Linked DNA regions of Homo sapiens: region 2 is linked to region 1. Evidence: fine-mapped expression QTL. A gene starts in region 1. The other region holds a variant in brackets. All regions are shown on one strand. Distances are from middle to middle.

Region 1 (2,903 bases):
CACACACACACATCCTCTCCTTTTACTGTCTCCCACCCCTTTCCATCTGGATTCCAGGAAGCCGGGGGAAGAGGGCCCATCTTGTTTTGTGTGTGTGTGTGTGTGTGTGTGTGTGTGTGTGTGTGTGTGTGTGTGTTTTGAGGGCCCATCTTTCTCCCACCTCCTCCACATCTCTCTTAGCTTCCAAAGGCTGCTGCCCTGCCCTCCCCAAAGTTGCTTCCATGCTTGGACTACAGAACAGAGTTGGATGACTTTTTCTGTCCACGATTCTCTTATTTTCTGTGATCCCCGGTGCCCGTGTAACAAGGTCCAGTGCCTGGGTCCCCTCCTTGGACTCCTGAGTGGCCGAGACACCGCTAGTGCGTGGACACCACTCCAGCCCCCATTACCTTTCCACCCTTACACCACGACCCACACCTGGCCTCCTCCCCAGGCTGACCCAGCGCCCCACCACCCTATCTATACACTCCAAGTTCTCCCACGATTCCTCCACTTGCAGCCGCCAGACCCTACTCTATTCCAGAGCCTCCTCTCCACTCCTGACCAGAATGTAGGCCCCTGTGTCCATTTCCAAGGCCACTTCCCTGTGTCTCCACCGGCTCCCTGCCCCCTTCCTCTGCAGCAGGGTAGACCCAACCTGGCCTCTCACCCTTCCATTCTCCCAAGCTTCCCGCCCCCAAGCCCCACCCCTCGTCTTCCATCTACAGTTACCCCCACGCCGGTCCCCAGCCGGGCTCAACCTCCGACCCCAGCTATCCATACCCACATCCCCCATAAATGACCCTCTTTCGACCAGACACTGCCCTGCTGCCTTTCTCCTTCCCAGCTATCCATACCCACATCCCCACCCCCGACCCTCTCCCAACCAGACACTCCCCAGCTGCCCAGCGCCCCTTGCCCTCGGCACCTCAGTCCCCTCCAGCTCCAAACGACCCCCGCCCAGCCAGTCCCCTCCCCTCAGCTCCTCACCTCCATGCCTCCCCCCGCACCCCCGCTCTAGCTCCCCTCAGTCCGCTCCCTTCACCGCCCCCTTCGCTGCCCCTCGGCTGCCCGGTACCACCTTTCCGCACAGCCCCACTCCGCCCTCCTCGCAGCTCCCCCGCCCCCCACGCCCCCGTTTCCCCCAGCGATCCCTCACTGCCCTCCAGTTGCCCCCCATCTCTCCTCCCAGCCCCAGCGCCGTCTTTCTTGCTCCCCTCCCGCCCTTGGAGCTCCCCCGGCTGCCCCCAACGTCTGGGAGACCCCCTCGGCGCCCCCTCCCTAGGTGAGCCCCACCTCTGCCGCCGCGGAGCCCCCTCCCTCGCTCCTCCCCCGGCTTCCTTCCGCTGCCCCGCGCTCCTTCTCGGCGCCCGCTCTCGGTGCCCAGCGCCCCGCGCCGGGGATCGGTCCCTGATCCTCCGCGGGCGGGCTGCCGGGGCCGCGCCCCTTACCGCGGACTCCGAGTGCGGGACGACGGGTTCGCTCCCGGACGGTCGGCGGGACGGCAGGACCTGGCGTCGGGAGGGCGCGGAGGGGGCCGGGGCGGGGCGCTGCGGGATGGTCTGGTCCGGTCAGGTCCTCACAGTGGCGCCTGAGGGCTGAGGCTCCCGCTCCAGCACTGCTCCGCTCCGGCCGCATCCAGGCCCCGCCCAAGGGCGGAGTCTGTGTTCGCCCCGCCCCGGCCCTCAACTCCTAGCAGGTGTAATCCGAGGTGACTCAGGACCTCCAGGTCCCCCATGTCTGGGTGACTCTCGTGATTTATCTTAATTGTCATGCCTCGTTCCATTGACTGAACTTACTAGGGTAATTAGAGAGCTTTGATGATAATGTAGCTGATGATGGGTAGCAGTTTTGCCATTTCCAAACTGCTTTCTGGTCCGGTCCGTTCTATGGCTCCGTCTTCACAAAAGCCCAGAGAGGGAGGCTGACTACAAGCGGAAACCAAGCCAGAAACCTGGACGCTGTCCTCTACCCTATCTGTGTTTCCTTCACACCCCACATCCCACCGCCTTAACATATCCCTGCCCTTCCTCTGTGTCTCCATTGCCCTTGTTCTGACTCCAGCATCATCACTTCTTGCTTGGACTAATGCAACAGCTTCCTAATTCCTGCCTTCACTCTCCAATTCACCCTATAAAACCAGGACGTGGTGTCAGCATGGCCATTTCCACCCTTGTACAAAAATTCTTTCTCCTGTGGTCTCCAGTCATACCACCCTCCACCCCTCCTCATCACTGACACCCAATTGTTCCTTATGCATTAAAGATTGCAGCCCCTGGCCCATGGTCATCCTAACTAGCCCCTGTTCTGCCATACTCCTGGTGACTTCGGTAGCTGTGAGACTTCCTGGTCCCATTCATTCTGAGTCAGATACCAAAATCATTTTGACACAAGCCCGAGCAACCCTTTAAAAAATGTCACCATGTTACCATCAACCTTGTTTAAGAAAACTCTCGGCCAGGCACAGTGGCTGACGCCTGTAATCCCAGCACTTTGGAAGGCCAAAGTGGGCAGATCACTTGAGGTCAGGAGTTCGAGACCAACCTGGCCAACATGGTGAAACCCTGTCTCTACTAAAAATACAAAAATTAGCCGGGCATGGTGGTGCATGCCTGTAGTCCCAGCTACTTGGGAGGCTGAGGCAGAATTGCTTGCACCCAGGAGGCAGAGGTTGCAGTGAGCCGAGATCACTGCACTCCAGCAGTGCACTCCAGCCTGGGCAACAAAGCCAGACTCCATCAAAAACCAAACAAACAAACAAACAAAAACCTCTCAATGGTTTCCCATTACCAGGAGGCTGTCAACAGGAGTAGAAAAATGTTCTTGCCTGGCCTGGCCCTAGGAAGTCCCACTTCCACTAGAGGAGGCAGATAGAGGAGGCAATAAATACCCCACCCTCAAATCCTGATATGGACTTCCAGTCT
Region 2 (2,903 bases), 84 kb before region 1:
TCTGGAGGCTCTGAGGGAGCATCTGCTCCATGCCCATCTCTTTGCCTGTGGTGGCTGCCAGCAATCCTTTGCATTCCTTGGCTCATGGCTGCAGTGCTCCAATCCCTGACTCCATCCCTGGAAAGCCTTCTTCCCTTTGTCCCTCTGTCTGAATCTCCCTCTCATCCCTTTTCTAAAGACATCAGTCGTTGGATTTAGGGTCTACCCAAATGCAGTATGGCCTCATCTTAACTTGATTACATCTGCCAAGATGCTATTTCCAAATAAGGTCACACACACAGGTACCAGAGGTTAGGGCTTCAACATATCTTTTGGGAGGATACAATTCAACCCATGACTGCATCTTTGTGCAGAATGGAGACATTTGTGCCCGCTCTGGATGGATGCTGCCCCTATGCTCATGGCTTAGTGAGGAGACAGCACCCTTGTGTGAATTACACCAAAGAGCCCTTTCTCCTAGTGCAGCTCCACACCAGGACCCAAGGCTTTGCACTTGGAATCTAGGCTGATTTCAACCCCGATTTAGCCTCCCTCTGGCCCACTCAGCAGGACACAGCCTGTTCAATCATATGTACTGACCTTCGACTACTCTGCCCTCAGCTGGCTGCTTCCACTCTGCCCCTCCCCACATTCCTACCCATCCTATTCCTTCCATCCCCATATCCTGAGGGTATAACCCATTCTCATTCTCAGTCCAGTTTTTGGATGTCTTTTGTGGAATGATCTGATTCTGTAGCTCCTGTGACTAGCTGGTATGTTTGCCTGGACAACATCTATTCTCTTCTCTTCTCTTCTCTTGTGGAAACAGCACCCTAATTTTCCTTTGGGGCAACCATCCCTCTCCCACTTGCAGTTCCTCTGGTTTGGGTGGGACTGACCCCACATTCCAACTTGAGATTGGCATAAAATCTAGTGTTGGCCAACCAGAACACCCCATCCCCTGGCATAATGATTAATCCTAGACTATTCTAAACATGACCGGGACTTTTGCCAAAACTACTGAAGGAGAGCCATTCTCTCTGTCCAGATGGCTATATGAATAGGATAAGCCCGGAGTGGCCTGAGAATAAAGCTGACCCAGAGAAAACTGATGCTAAGAGAGAGAATCCTGATAATATAATTTAGTCACCTGCTTCTATCTAAGCCTAAAGCTAGATATAGCCCAGGACTTTATAAGTAACATGAGCTAACAAATTTCCCTCCCGCCATGATCCCCTCTTTTACTGTGTGACTACTAAAAGTGGGTCTCTGTCCTGTAACTGAAAGAATCCTATCTAGGGACTCTTTAAAATGCCAAAAAAGAAAGAGAGGAAAGAAAAGAAAGAAAAGGAAGAAAGGGAAGGAAAGGAAGGAAGGGAAGGGAAGGAAGGAAGGAAGGAAGGAATTCCAATCTCTGAATGCATCTCTGACACCTCC[G/A]TTATCTCTGCTCTGTGCTTCCAAAGCTCTGTGTCCTCCCTGGCCCACCAGGGTCTCCATGCCTGAGTCCTGGCAGATGAGTAGGAGTTAACTAGGCTAAGAAAGGGGAAAGGTTTCCTAGCACATCATGGTGGAGATAGGTGTAAAATTGGACTGAATATCCCGCCTACTTAGACTCATTAAACTTTTTGAGGAGAGGTGGGGGTAGGGAGCAGGTTCTGCCCCTTCCTGGGGCTGCCAGTTCTGTCTACATTTGGTTTCATTTTCCTGTGGGCTCTCTACTTTCCAGCTCAGCAGCTTTGTTCCCACGTGCCATCCAGCAGTGTATCTTAAATCTCTGCTATGAGCTAACACTGAGCTAAGCTGCTGGGAGGCACACATTGCCCCTTGTTATTCTCTGCAACCTCTACACCACCTAGCACAGAGCCACAGCCCAGCAGGTCTCCAGAAGTGCACACTAATAGGCATTCCCTGACCTCTTGCAATGTCAGTCCTTCCTTCACCATGAAGCCTTCCCTGACTGTTGTAGTCCATCCTGATCTCCCCCTTTCCTGAGTCCATCATGAGCTATTGCATCATATTGTGTCTTTTGTTGCACTGGTGCTGGACCTGTTTCCCAGTTCCTCTTAAAGATTTCTGAATGCAAGAATCTGTACCCAAAGTTCTTTTTTTTTTTTTTTTTGAGACAGAGTATCACTCTGTCACCCAGGCTGGAGTGCAGTGGAGCGATCTCGGCTCACTGCAACCTCTGCCTCCTGGGTTCAAGCAATTCTCCTGCCTCTGCCTCCCCAGTTGAGCTGGGATTTACAGGTGCCCACCACCACATCTGGCTAATTTTTGTATTTTTAGTAGAGATGGGATTTTGCCATGTTGGCCAGACTGGTCTTGAACTCCTGACTTCAAGTGATCCACTTGCCTTGGCCTCCCAAAGTGCTGGGATTACAGGCATGAGCCACTGCGCCCAGCCTCCTCTGCCCAAAGTTCTTAGCACAAACTCAGGAAAGAGTCACTCTACAAATGATACACAATTCAGAAGAACTTTAATGCATATACCATCATTGCCACTATAATAGAGATAGAAGATACATTAAGAAAATTCAGTTTGTATCAATAAAACAGATCAACACAGAACAAGGAAACACCATAGATATTTGTAAATGAGATCTTCTCTTTTGCTACTGTGTATATATATTCCTTTATATTTATACAAACTCACAACACATGACATTTCATATTTCATATGCCACTGAGAAGAGGTGTCAGTATACAGAACATAGGAAGAAGAAAAAAGCATGAGAACATCTGCTTAGTTAGAATCTGATGAGGAGAGACGTGAGAGCTATTGTTCCTCTCTCTGCTCAGGCCTATCGAGAGGCAACTGCAGTTTTTGCTAATTGTTCCTCCTGAGGAATTCTGCTCATACTGCTATGGTACATCTCCTAGGTTGGCATGAGACCAGCCTGGTCCCCAGTTGAATAAATTAGAAA

Direction of the effects. Positions count from the first base shown, and alleles are read on the strand shown. Sizes are in standard deviations (SD) of each study's normalised expression.
For the expression in iPS cells of the gene that starts at base 1,579 in region 1, A is the low allele of the variant in region 2 and G is the other (large effect, 0.81 SD a copy in PhLiPS).

Evidence for each region. PIP is the estimated chance that this variant, and not a neighbour inherited with it, causes the effect. A credible set is the group of variants that fine-mapping cannot tell apart.
Region 2: its variant is the best candidate, but not a certain one, in a credible set for the expression of RAB3B in iPS cells (PhLiPS, PIP 0.70).

The regions. Positions count from the first base shown.
Region 1 is chr1:51,989,122-51,992,024 of GRCh38, forward strand. It overlaps RAB3B (RAB3B, member RAS oncogene family), which reads right to left and starts at 1,579. Exons shown (of 5, transcript NM_002867.4): 1 at 1,431-1,579. RefSeq lists a silencer at 1,493-1,602.
Region 2 is chr1:51,905,517-51,908,419 of GRCh38, forward strand. RAB3B (RAB3B, member RAS oncogene family) reads right to left here. Exons shown (of 5, transcript NM_002867.4): 5 at 2,440-2,903. Among named protein-coding and RNA genes, the nearest start is that of NRDC, 28 kb to the left of the region's middle. The variant G/A (reference allele first, on the strand shown) is at 1,417.